Linked DNA regions of Homo sapiens. The protein of the gene in region 1 interacts with the protein of each later gene in a pairwise test. Each region holds a gene or a part of one and is shown on either strand. Other genes may lie near its edges. The genes, in order: SOX30 and FLI1.

The links.
Region 2: the proteins of SOX30 (region 1) and FLI1 interact in binary tests that used the Homo sapiens proteins (3 or more experiments, as listed by UniProt).

Annotation. Positions count from the first base shown.
Region 1 is NC_000005.10:157,649,295-157,657,162, reverse strand, and holds the start of SOX30 (transcription factor SOX-30), read left to right. Parts: upstream 1-4,724; 5' UTR 4,725-5,084; coding exon 5,085-6,051; intron 6,052-7,868. UniProt on the Homo sapiens protein: Acts both as a transcriptional activator and a repressor. Binds to the DNA sequence 5'-ACAAT-3' and shows a preference for guanine residues surrounding this core motif. Binds to its own promoter and activates its own transcription.
Region 2 is NC_000011.10:128,808,796-128,813,781, forward strand, and holds the end of FLI1 (Friend leukemia integration 1 transcription factor), read left to right. Parts: intron 1-361; coding exon 362-409; intron 410-1,663; coding exon 1,664-2,193; 3' UTR 2,194-4,472; downstream 4,473-4,986. UniProt on the Homo sapiens protein: Sequence-specific transcriptional activator. Recognizes the DNA sequence 5'-C[CA]GGAAGT-3'.

The DNA.
Region 1 (7,868 bases):
TTTACATTTGATAATGCTTCCTGTGTGGTTTTTGTACCAAATAAGCCAAATGTGACTCTTGCATTAGTGCATTATTGATGACAAACCCAATTCTTTATAAAACCTTATAGACAAATGTATTCAATCTTAATCAGTTTGACTATAAGGTAAGATTCTCACAAACCTTTTATAACCCTTTACATATTTTTGTTAAAGAGCAAATCATAGCAGGTTTTTGCTCTAAAAAAACTTGTGCTTTTATTCCAATGTTTAATTTATAGAAAAACTGAATACCCCTTTAACTTTAACTAATATATTCACACACAGAATGTCCTACAATTAATTTTTCACACTTTCCAAAACTTTCTTAAACCTTCAGCTTCATTCTATCTAACTTAAAACAATAATTTAACCATTTAATCTAAGGAAGAAAATTTACATTCTCATGACTTCTAATGATCTTTTACCAAAAACACATTTCACTTTCCTTACACACCTTATGTGTAGAACTATTCTTCAGTAGTCTCAATTACATGTTACAATGTTAACTTTCAGCGATTTTTACTTTTGGTGAAAACCCTGGTTGGTAAGCATTTTAATTATGTACTAGGTGTGCAGCCTAGGACACAGACAGAAGTGCAGATAAGGTCTGACTTTTTCTAGCATTGCTTGGGGTATGGCTAACATCACATGTCCCCAGGCCTTATCTAGACTCTAATATGGTCAAAGTAGGTAAATTAAACAATTTTCAAAAGTGAAAGCAGCAGCTTATGAACTTAAAGCATTTAGCAAACCTAATATCTGACCTGCATAATTTAGACCAAATGTTTACATTTTAAGATATTTTTATTTTACCAATAATCTTTAAAACTGTCTTCATTTCCCAAAGATTACTTAAGTCACATGAACTATATAAAAGGCATTATATGTTTAATTTTTCTCACAAAAATATGACTGAAGCACTTATTATTTTTAACCGATTAATCAAACCTCTGTTATATACAAGCACCACACACATGATACACATAAATACACAGACAAAAGATAAAGGACTCATCTCCTAAGATGGGAATTGAACCCTGAACCCGGGCCACCACTGTGAAAGAGAAAGCACAGCCACATGGTTACAAGGTCAAGCTCCCAAGGACATACAAGACAAGAGGGAAACCTCATCCAGTTTTTTTCACGGACCTGCAGCAAAGTTTTTAACTGACCAGTTTGCTGGGCCATCTTGAACAGCAGGCTTATAGGTGTCCTAAGCCCATGTTCTATCCTAAGGTACCCCTCTTTATGACAGAACAATACAGAATGACACAGGAAACACACCAGATTGGCTACAGCTTAAGACTAGCCTCACAAATCCTTTCTTCCATTAATCAAAACTTTGTAAGAAATAGTGATTTTTACCATTCCTACAACCAGTTTGCACAGAGAGAGACGACAGCATTGCCTGAGGCAAGGTGGGGAAGGCCAGGCGTTCAGGGAAGCCACAGAAAGATCCACCCACTGCAGCGACAGTGAAGAGTTCAGGTGGCCACTTCTCGGTAGTGAAGGGATGTTTTCCAGCAGTCCCATCGACTCTCAAGTTTCCCCTTTACGGGAGGAAAAAGCTCCTCATGTCCCATGATCCTGTACCTGCCTAACCCTGTCATCCGCATCCATCAGCAAAGAGTACAAGGCAGATTATTCCAAGGAGAATAGAAGTTAACATACCGTAGTGCCAAACCTGTTCTTAGCCAAAGGGGACTTTACCGAGAGGGGCTTCTAGCCCCCTAAATCTTAGAAGGGACTCTAACCCTCCTAAGTTGGGCTTCTAACCCAATCCCATTCTTTATCTGGGTACCCCACCACTTATCCAAAATTGTCCAATCAGTGCTATAGTCTATTTCCTTTGAGTCAGGAGTCTCCTAAGTATCGTCCCTTTAGGGTTCACCAGAAAGATGTTACCGGACCCCACCACTTACCCAAAGTTAGCCTTTGGGTCGGGGTTTCCATACTGCAGTCCATTCCATAGTTGCCAGAAAGATGTTACAGGACCTCACCACTTACTGGGGGCTTACACACTATAATCCCACCTGGGTCACCAGAAAGAAGTTACAGGAAAGGGGTCCAGATCCAGACCCCAAAAGAGGGTTCTTGGATCTCGCACAAGGAAGAATTCAGAGCGAGTCCATAAAGTAAAGTGAAAGCGAGTTTATTAAGAAAGTAAAGGAATAAAATAATGGCTACTCCATAGACTGAGCAACCCCAAGGGCTGCTGGTTGCCCATTTTTATGGTTATTTCTTGATGATAAGCTAAACAAGGGGTGGATTTTTCATGCCTCCCCTTTTTAGACCATATAGGATAACTTCCTGACATTGCAGTGGCATCTGTAAGCTGTCATGCTGCCAGTGTGAGTGTAGTAGTGAGGATGACAAGAGGTAATTCTCATCACCATCTTGGTTTTTGTGGGTTTTAGCCAGCTTCTTTATTGCAACCCGTTTTATCAGCAAGGTTTTTATGACCTGTACTTTGTGCCAGCCTCCTATCTCATCCTGTGACTTAGAATGCCTTAACTGTCTGGGAATGCGACCCAGTATGTTTCAGCCTCATTTTACCCAGCACCTACTCAAGATGGAGGTGCTCTGGTTCACACACCTCTGACAACTTATTTGCCTCTTTTATCAGCTTTTGCTCATGCATACAGTTGCCTCTCCCATTTAAACCCTAGTACAGTGGTTCTCAAAGTGTGGTATGGGGACTGACACTTACAGAGTCAGCTAGGTTAAAACTATTTTCATAATAATCCTAATGTAATATTTGCTCTTTTCACTTCATTCTCTTGTGAGCATAAGGTGGGGAAAATATAATTTTTTCCTATGAAAATGTGTTACCACAGAATGGTTTTATTGTTGACGTTTTAAATGAGTTGCTATCTTTAAAATTTGTTTTTATTTACAACATGGTAAATATTGATAGATGAAATCCACATGAACAAAAGCTTTTTTGGGATCTTCAATAGTTTTTTTTTTTTTTTTTGAGACAGGGTCTTGCTCTGTTGCCCAGGCTGGAGTGCAGTGGCACGATCTCGGCTCCTGCAACCTCTGCCTCCCAGGTTCAAGCGATTCTCCTGCCTCAGCCTCCCGAGTAGCTGGAATTACAGGCATGTGCCACCATGCCCAACTAATTTTTTATTTTTAGTAGAGACGAGGTTCCACCATGTTGGCCAGGCTGGTCTCGAACTCCTGACCTCAAGTGATCCGCCTGCCTCAGCCTCCCAAAGTGCTGGGATTACAGGAGTGAGCCACCACGCCCAGCCCAGGATCTTCAATAGTTTTTATGGGTATAATGAGTTCTTGAGATAAAAGTTTGAAAACCATTGCCCTTGTCTATCTGCCAGGTATAAGAACTCCTACTGACCACATTTGTTACCAGAGGATTGGACAATAAATTGGAGTGGTCTTTGAGTGATAACTTGTCTTGATTGCAAAAATCATCTACGTCAAGATAAACTATAGTTTTTGGCCAGAATGTCATTTAGAAATGCAGCAAATGTTAATACAGGATTTCTTTTTGTTTTTCTTGGTGATGTTTAATGGAAATAAACACAATCCTACTAAAAGGAGAAACATAAACATGGAAAGGATTTGGAACAGTGTCTAGCATAAGAGTAAGCCCTTAACACAGGTAGTGATTATTACTATTTTATTATTACCCTATCACAGTCGCTATTCATTTATTTATTCAACAAGTATTTATTGAGTACTATATGCCAGGCTCAATGGTCTGCATTGTGGATTCAGTGATGGGCAAAACACAAACTGTTCTGCCTTCAAGGACTTTATAGTCTAAAGTGGGAGAGGCAGTGGAATCATCACATGAAAATTCTAATTACAAATTGTGGTAAGCAAACCAAGTGATAGAGGTATAAGTAGACCAAGATTTTATCTGATTTTCAGAGTCAGTAAAAGCTTCTCTGAAGAAGTCCCAGTTGAGCTGCAATATGAAAAATGTGCAGGAGGAATTAAGGAGACACAAAGGAAAGAGTAGCATGCTGAGCATGTTTAAACACCCTGCAGTAGAAAGAGAATGATGATGGGGCCAATGTGGCTGAAACCCAAAGACTCAATAACTATTTAATGGCAAAAACCACAATTACTTTTGCACCAATCTAATAGTAGCAGTAGTAGGAGGTTAGATCCCAAGCCACTGGGGGATTTTTAAGGCTTTGCTAAGAATTTTAGACTTTCATTACATTATCAGTGGGGAGCCATGGAAAGTTTAGGAAAAGTGTGACAACCTTAGATTTGCGTTTTCGAAAGATCACTGGCAGCTGGAGTGTAGTGGGGCAAGGGTGACAAGCAGGGAGACTATTTACAGGGTTACGGCAGTATCCCAGTGAAAGATGCTGGGAGCCTGGAACAGGATAATGGCAGGTAGAGACACAAAACAGTGGATGAATTTGGGATGTATAGTATTTTGGAAGTAGGGCCACAGGGCCTGGTGATTAATTGAAACTTTAGCACAATAATCACACAAAGTCGAAGATCCTCCCCAGCAACATTAGCTAATAGGTTATTGATAAGTTGCAAAATCTTCCCCATTCTCCCTTGGCAAAGATTCAAAAGCCCTGGTGGTACTCAGGGCCGACAGATTACTCAGGCCGCACAGAGCGCGTGCACAAGGCCGTCGCTCCCCTTGTGACGCAAGACTTCATTCCCTGGATGTCAGCGGCCTGGAAGCGCAACGTTTCCTGGGCAACGCCATTGTCGCAGCTCCGGGTGGGGGAGGGATGACTAAAGACAACGGCTGTAAGAGAACTCCACAAGAGAGTCAGAACGAAAATGTGCAACAAGTGCGGCGGCTCCTACCATGGCAGGTGATTCGAGGACTCAGCACGAGGCGAGAGTAGGGACCAGGAAGAGCCGGAAAACCCGCCTGTGATTGGCCGTCCACGGGTATCGGTCGTTGTGATTGGGTGAGGCCCAGACAGACAGCTGCGTTTTGAACCGCGTAGGGTTCTGGGTAGCAAAGGCCTTGCAAGGCTCTTAACCGAAAGGGGGAGGGGGAAGGTCGCCAACAAACGGCTGAGCTCACAATCCTGGCCGGGGCGTCCCCCTCCCCCATGGAGAGAGCCAGACCCGAGCCGCCGCCTCAGCCGCGCCCGTTGCGTCCCGCTCCGCCCCCGCTGCCGGTCGAGGGCACCTCCTTTTGGGCAGCAGCCATGGAGCCCCCTCCGTCGTCTCCCACACTGAGCGCGGCAGCCAGTGCGACCTTGGCCTCGTCGTGCGGGGAGGCAGTGGCGTCCGGCTTACAGCCCGCGGTGCGGCGGCTGCTGCAGGTGAAGCCAGAGCAGGTGTTGCTGCTACCACAGCCTCAGGCCCAGAACGAGGAAGCCGCTGCCTCGTCCGCGCAGGCGCGGCTGTTGCAGTTCAGGCCCGACCTGCGGCTCCTGCAGCCGCCGACAGCGTCAGACGGCGCCACCTCCAGGCCCGAGTTGCACCCGGTGCAGCCCCTGGCGCTGCATGTCAAGGCCAAGAAGCAGAAGCTGGGGCCCAGCCTGGATCAGTCAGTGGGGCCTCGAGGGGCCGTCGAAACCGGTCCTAGAGCCTCCAGGGTGGTCAAGTTGGAAGGCCCCGGGCCGGCCCTCGGCTACTTCCGAGGGGACGAGAAGGGCAAGCTGGAGGCGGAGGAGGTCATGAGAGACTCGATGCAAGGCGGGGCAGGCAAAAGCCCGGCAGCCATCCGAGAAGGTGTGATCAAAACGGAGGAACCCGAGAGACTCCTCGAGGACTGCAGGCTCGGCGCGGAGCCCGCGTCCAATGGCCTGGTTCATGGCAGCGCGGAGGTCATCTTGGCCCCAACGTCCGGTGCCTTTGGGCCGCACCAGCAAGACCTTAGGATCCCTTTGACGCTCCACACGGTCCCCCCTGGGGCCCGGATCCAGTTTCAGGGAGCTCCGCCTTCAGAGCTGATAAGATTGACCAAGGTCCCCCTGACACCAGTGCCTACTAAAATGCAGTCCCTACTGGAGCCTTCTGTAAAAATTGAAACCAAAGATGTCCCGCTCACCGTGTTGCCCTCAGATGCAGGTATTAGACAGCAGGGGAGTCGGGTTTTCAAAACTGCGTCTGTGTTGCCCATAGCTGTTTTGTCAGCAGTTCCCAAGTCTAAACTACAAAAGTAAAGTAATGGAACTGATTGTTTTCAGGGCAGAGTCTGCACAGGTATCACTTCTGATCGACTTGTACATATAGCAGTAAAATACACGAATGCCTTCAAGATTCTCAAGTATTTTTTAAAAAATCGATTTTAAGGCCCAGTATTTAGATAGGACTAATTTTTGTACACAAAAATAGAAATATTCTTGCTAGACAGCGCATAGCCCTCAGTTTATATGCTACAAATAATCAAGATTAAAAATATTGTAGTATAACAGCTCAGTACTTTTATATGTATCAAGAAATAGAAGAAATAATGGTGTTGAATGAAAAAAGTGATTATAATTAAACAGGAAAGTTTATACCGATTATAGAGGCTATCTTTAAAAATGAATAATAAATATTCTAGCAGAAAACAATACGTGATTCAATGTAATATTTTAGGGTTTATTCCTCTGAAAGGTAATGACTTATAGAAATATTGAAAAGAATACAGTAGAATGAGCCATAAATATTATTTTTAAAGAAATGACTAGTTGCAGCAGTAACAAGTACAAATAATGTTTTTATTTCTATTCAGTATTTCCAGATATATAGTTAGCAAATTCTTATTTTAAGATTTAGTTCACACAGAACACTTTGCCAATGAACATCTTGGAAAGTCATATTAATCTTTGGTTCATATTTTTATTAACTTTATGTTTTATTGTTTTTTTAATTTTCTGTGTTGATTCTTCCTCTCCACTCCACCCTGTTGCTTTTATCTTTAGTAGTTTTTAGATTTTATTTTTGTTTTCTAAAGGAAAGAAAGGGAAAGCTTTCTTTATACTACTTATTTCATCTTTAGTGTTTTTAAGAAATTTTTAATATATGAAGTAATCCTAAAATAATATAATAAATTTATGGACAGTTATTTTTGATAAAATACATGAGAGATGTGAATTTAGATAACTTCCTTTGTTGAAATTTCAACTGGCTCTGTGACTTTCTTTTTTTAAATTTTATTTTATGAAAAAGAGATGCTGGTCTCGAACTCCTGGGATGAAGCAGTCCTCCGCCTTGGCCTCCCAAAGTACTGAGGTTACAGGTGTGAGCCATTGTGGCTGCCTTCTCTGACTTTCAAAAAAATTACTTTTATTATTTTCTGTCATTTTTTTTCTGAAATATTGGCAGAGAGGTTCTAGGAATGAAGGTCAGAAGCAAGTGTGAGCCATTTTACCTGCCTTCTGTGACTTTCAAAAAATTATTTTTTTGAGACTGAGTCTCACTCTGTTGCCCAGTCTGGAGTACCGTGGCGTGATCTCAGCTCGCTGCAACCTCCACCTCCTGGGTTCAAGCGATTCTCCTGCCTCAGCCTCCTAGGTAGCTGGGACTACAGGCATGAGCAACCACGCCTGGCTAATTTTTGTATTTTCAGTAGAGATGGGGTTTCATCATGTTGGCCAGGCTGGTCTCAAACTCCTGACCTCGCGTGATCCACCTGCCTTGGCCTCCCAAAGTGCTGGGATTACAGGCGTGAGCCACCGTACCTGGCCCAAAAAATTATTTTTATTGTTTTCTTTCATTTTTCTCCCAGGACACAGGACTAGTGTTGATGATTCCACTTGGTAAGAGCTTCACCTTCGTAGTGAAATACAACTAATATAGTATTACAATATTATAAATAGTTTTGCTTGAAAGGACACAAGAGCAGCATGTAGATGAGTTCCTGTGAATGTTTAGAGAACCTCTACCTAGCTAAGATTATA
Region 2 (4,986 bases), on another chromosome or scaffold:
ACCTGCTTTAAGCCCATGGAGTCAGCTGTCCGTTGTATCATTGAATATTATCCAGTTCCTTTCCAAATGTTTTCTTTGTTTTGCTTTGGGTAATGACAACATAATCTGCACATTTTAGATGCCAAAATAAGAAAAAGTAATCCTGTTCCTATTCTTTGTTCTTTCTGTAATTATTGAGATGAAGACCACAAATGTCATCAAGATCTTTGAGATCTGCAAATAAAAGCAGTAAAGTTTTCTGAAATCAGTCTTTCCTGTGATCTTGAAATAAAAGTATAAACCCTTATGGTTTTCTTATGGTTGGTACGGTTGTCATATTTTTTAAAAACACTGAAGCAAATTTCCTTTTTTATTTCCTTAGATCCGTATCAGATCCTGGGCCCGACCAGCAGTCGCCTAGCCAACCCTGGTGAGTTTACCTTGGCCTGCAAGCCTTTTTTGCCAGAATGTTTCGTAGCTTTGTGAAATCACAGAGACTTCTGTCCTAAGTCCAGACACCTGAGTGGGGAGTAACATGCACGTCTTTCCTTGAAATGTTCAATGTCTGTTTCTGGAGCATGTGAACAACAGGTCAGGGCTTGTTATGAGGTGTCAAGGTTGGTTAGCTGAGGATACTTCTAGGAATAAACACATCAGCACTGCACATGTGCACTTAGGTGTAGATGAGTAATAAGTGGCACAGGTAGGTAGGCGTTTCAATCAGAGAAAATGGGCAAGAAAGAAAAGAAGACAACTCCACTCAGCTCTCAGTTGTCTCCCGCATGCCAGGCACAAGTTCATAAATATTCCAAAGGGTTTTATTTGTGATTTTAGAAAGTGTTGCCAAGTTATCTGGCCTTATAAAAGAGATGTGTCCTGGAAAAGTTGCAGATATAGTCAATTTGACCTTGTACTTTAAAGATTTAGTATCAAAAATAACTCTCAAGAGGGTCCTTCTAAACCAAGTCCATCGAGATTGGGAGCTAGCAGGCCCTTGTCGCAGTGTGGCCCACTCACCTTCCCATCCCAGGGACTCTGCCTACCCATTCCTTAGTGCCTGGTCATTACTGCCAGAGGAGAAAGCAGCCACCCAGCATATTCTGGGTATTTTTCTCTCTGCACAAGTTCTCTGTAGAACTTAGAGCTGCAAGCCAAGCTCTGGGCCTGCCAAGGGCCAATCCAGGTCCTGTCCATCCAAAAGCTAAAGCTCATGGCGCAGCTTCTCCCAATGACTCCCACAGTCATGCCTTGCCCCTGACTTTTTATTGCTGACAGGGAATTCCCTGGGGGACATGACCACTAATTAGAGATCAGTCAGTGATTCAGGCCTTTCTAGATGAAGAGATTCAAAAGCCTTGCCAAAGGGATTGAGGGGGGATATGGCTCACCCAAGATCACACAGCTAGTTCTGGGCAGAGTTTGCACCTCACTTCCCACATTCCATTTACCAGGCCTTGGGGCAAAGCATCTTAGGATCTAACCTCGCTTATTATACCCATCTCCAAGGCAAGCAGAAAGGCAAATCAACAATGACATAAGAAGGGCTTGTCAAGTCGATCCCAATGTCGAAGGAAACAAAAGGTTTCTTTAAAAGGATGAGAAGCTCCCTGCATTTAGGGAACTGGGTTCTGCCTTCTCTGGGCTGAGGTGTTCTGTTCTCTCCCGTTTGCCTCACGGCGTGCAGGAAGCGGGCAGATCCAGCTGTGGCAATTCCTCCTGGAGCTGCTCTCCGACAGCGCCAACGCCAGCTGTATCACCTGGGAGGGGACCAACGGGGAGTTCAAAATGACGGACCCCGATGAGGTGGCCAGGCGCTGGGGCGAGCGGAAAAGCAAGCCCAACATGAATTACGACAAGCTGAGCCGGGCCCTCCGTTATTACTATGATAAAAACATTATGACCAAAGTGCACGGCAAAAGATATGCTTACAAATTTGACTTCCACGGCATTGCCCAGGCTCTGCAGCCACATCCGACCGAGTCGTCCATGTACAAGTACCCTTCTGACATCTCCTACATGCCTTCCTACCATGCCCACCAGCAGAAGGTGAACTTTGTCCCTCCCCATCCATCCTCCATGCCTGTCACTTCCTCCAGCTTCTTTGGAGCCGCATCACAATACTGGACCTCCCCCACGGGGGGAATCTACCCCAACCCCAACGTCCCCCGCCATCCTAACACCCACGTGCCTTCACACTTAGGCAGCTACTACTAGAAGCTTACTCATCAGTGGCCTTCTAGCTGAAGCCCATCCTGCACACTTACTGGATGCTTTGGACTCAACAGGACATATGTGGCCTTGAAGGGAAGACAAAACTGGATGTTCTTTCTTGTTGGATAGAACCTTTGTATTTGTTCTTTAAAAACATTTTTTTTAATGTTGGTAACTTTTGCTTCCTCTACCTGAACAAAGAGATGAATAATTCCATGGGCCAGTATGCCAGTTTGAATTCTCAGTCTCCTAGCATCTTGTGAGTTGCATATTAAGATTACTGGAATGGTTAAGTCATGGTTCTGAGAAAGAAGCTGTACGTTTTCTTTATGTTTTTATGACCAAAGCAGTTTCTTGTCAATACACGGGGTTCAGTATGACACAGAATCATGGACTTAACCCGTCATGTTCTGGTTTGAGATTTAGTGACAAATAGAGGTGGGAAGCTTATAATCTAATTTTAGGAGGACCAAATTCAGTGGATGGCAACTGGAACATTGATTGTAAGGCCAGTGAAGTTTTCACCCAACTGGAATTTGATGGAAAGAAGGTTTGTGTGTTTAAGACGCCAAGGGCATTGCAGAATCCCTCTCAGTGGACAGTATGCACTCAGCTGACCACTCTCTCTAGAAATAGTCAAGATATGAACTAAGAAATTTTAATGCAAATACATACATTCCTGAAAGACGGGGAATTAAATTACTAATTTTTTTTTTTTTTTAAATGATGACAGTGGTCCCAGAACTTGGAAAAGTTGTAGGGATTTCTAAACTCAAGCAGATTCGCAAGTGCTGTGCGCTTGTCAGACCATCAGACCAGGGCCAACCAATCAGAAGGCAACTTACTGTATAAATTATGCAGAGTTATTTTCCTATATCTCACAGTATTAAAAATAAATAATTAAAAATTAAGAATAAATAAACGAGTTGACCTCGGTCACAAAAGCAGTTTTACTATCGAATCAATCGCTGTTATTTTTTTTAATGTAATTTGTACATCTTTTTTCAATCTGTACATTTGGGCTGTCTGTATGTTTTTATAGCTGGTTTTTAAAAAGCATAATATGCCTATAGCTGAAAAGGAAACAGGGCTGTTTAAGTCACTGACTTATGAGAAAGCAAAGCACTGGTACAGTTATTTAACAGGCATACACAAGCAGGGAAAAGATAATCCATTTAGATCTTTAATGCTTTGGAAATGCGTGTAACAGTACTGCAATAATCACAGCTCTGGGAAAAACAACGAAACTTTCCCTTGTGGAGAGGAGGGATTTTCCTGCTCTATATAAGCAACATATTTTTAGACATTAAAATATATATAATTTTGCAGGTAATTGTTGACTTTTTTAACTATATTAAGTGTTAAGCTGACAACTGTCAAAGAAGACCATGTTGTAAAATAATTTGACTAAATAAATGGTTCCTTCTCTCAGTGCTGAGGACAGTTTTCTTATTTACCGCCCCCGTTAGGTCAAAGGGTTTTCCCTGGGGAACTTTCCTATTTACTTCTTGCACTATCAAGAATTTTTCGAATGTACCTACTGCAGTACAGCAGAAGGTAAAAAATCAGTGTGGTTTTTCATTGTTGTTGATGATGTTTGTAGTGTTTTTGTGTGTGTTATTTAAATCTTCCTCCAGCCTAAAAGGGTTTTATAAAACAGCAGCTAAGGCCATGGATAAACCTGTATGTAAGGACTGGAGCAAAGCGAGCTGGTCTATCCAGACTGGTCTGTGAGATTTAACTCTGCAGCCTCCCCTGGGCACTTCAGACCCAGACGGCCACCTTCTGCCACTCCAGCAAAGAATAAGCGCCCTGCTTCCTTCAGGTCTCAGACCAGGACTTTATGGCTCATGCAGATTTTTAAGGTCATTTTTCTTCCCAAGGAAGAAACTTGCCTCCAGTTCCTTCACTGTTAGGTAGCTTATTTTCATTTTCTCTATTTTACAATGAAAAGAGTGAGACCTGGGAAGTCCTTGATTTGCAAGGAATTAGACTCACAGCATTGGTAACCCTAGAACCTTCTTAGGGTAACACTAAGTACCTTCTAGACAACATGTCTACCTAAATGAAATGGGATGTGTTTCGGAACATTTGTCTCCAGTTTTTTTTTAATCTTGCACCCTGCCATTTAAAAAGATGTGTAAAGCACATATTCTCAACATATGCACATTGATTTATAAATCATATATACAAACTGTTACATTATTCTTCATATTAGAAAACAAATACAAAATAGAACATTTTAAATGGTGATATAAAAATAAATTGAAACTGAAATTCTACTCTTTTCCTCCTATTTTCTCTATATTGAATATCCTCTGCTATTAACTCTCAAAACAAAGATGTTGGTCTTTAGTGAAAAAAGTGTATGCATGTACTGGATTTCTAGTGACTTCCAAGAAAGGAGAAAATTAAAACTTGGTATTAGTGGCCCAAGCATAGAAAGAGGAATGATGAAGGCCAGGTATGTTTAAGAACAAACTAGCTGAATTCTTTGGCAGATCTCCATCTTAGCCACGCAATTTCCCCATCAATTTTGAAATCTGCAAAGTATTCATTAGGGAAAATGGAGGCATATATTTCTGAGTGCTGTAAGAAGATGCTCAGCCCATTAGTTCATTCTTTTAAAGGTTTTCTTTATGTGTCCTACTCAAACACTGGCTCAGGCTCATCTTCTCTACACAGTCATAGAGCTTTAGCCAAATCTCGCCCCCTGAATATGTTCCACAGTGATTTGTCCTATGCCTCAGAAGCTGGCCCACTGGCTGACAGGACTGGGGCACCATTTTCTCCTCA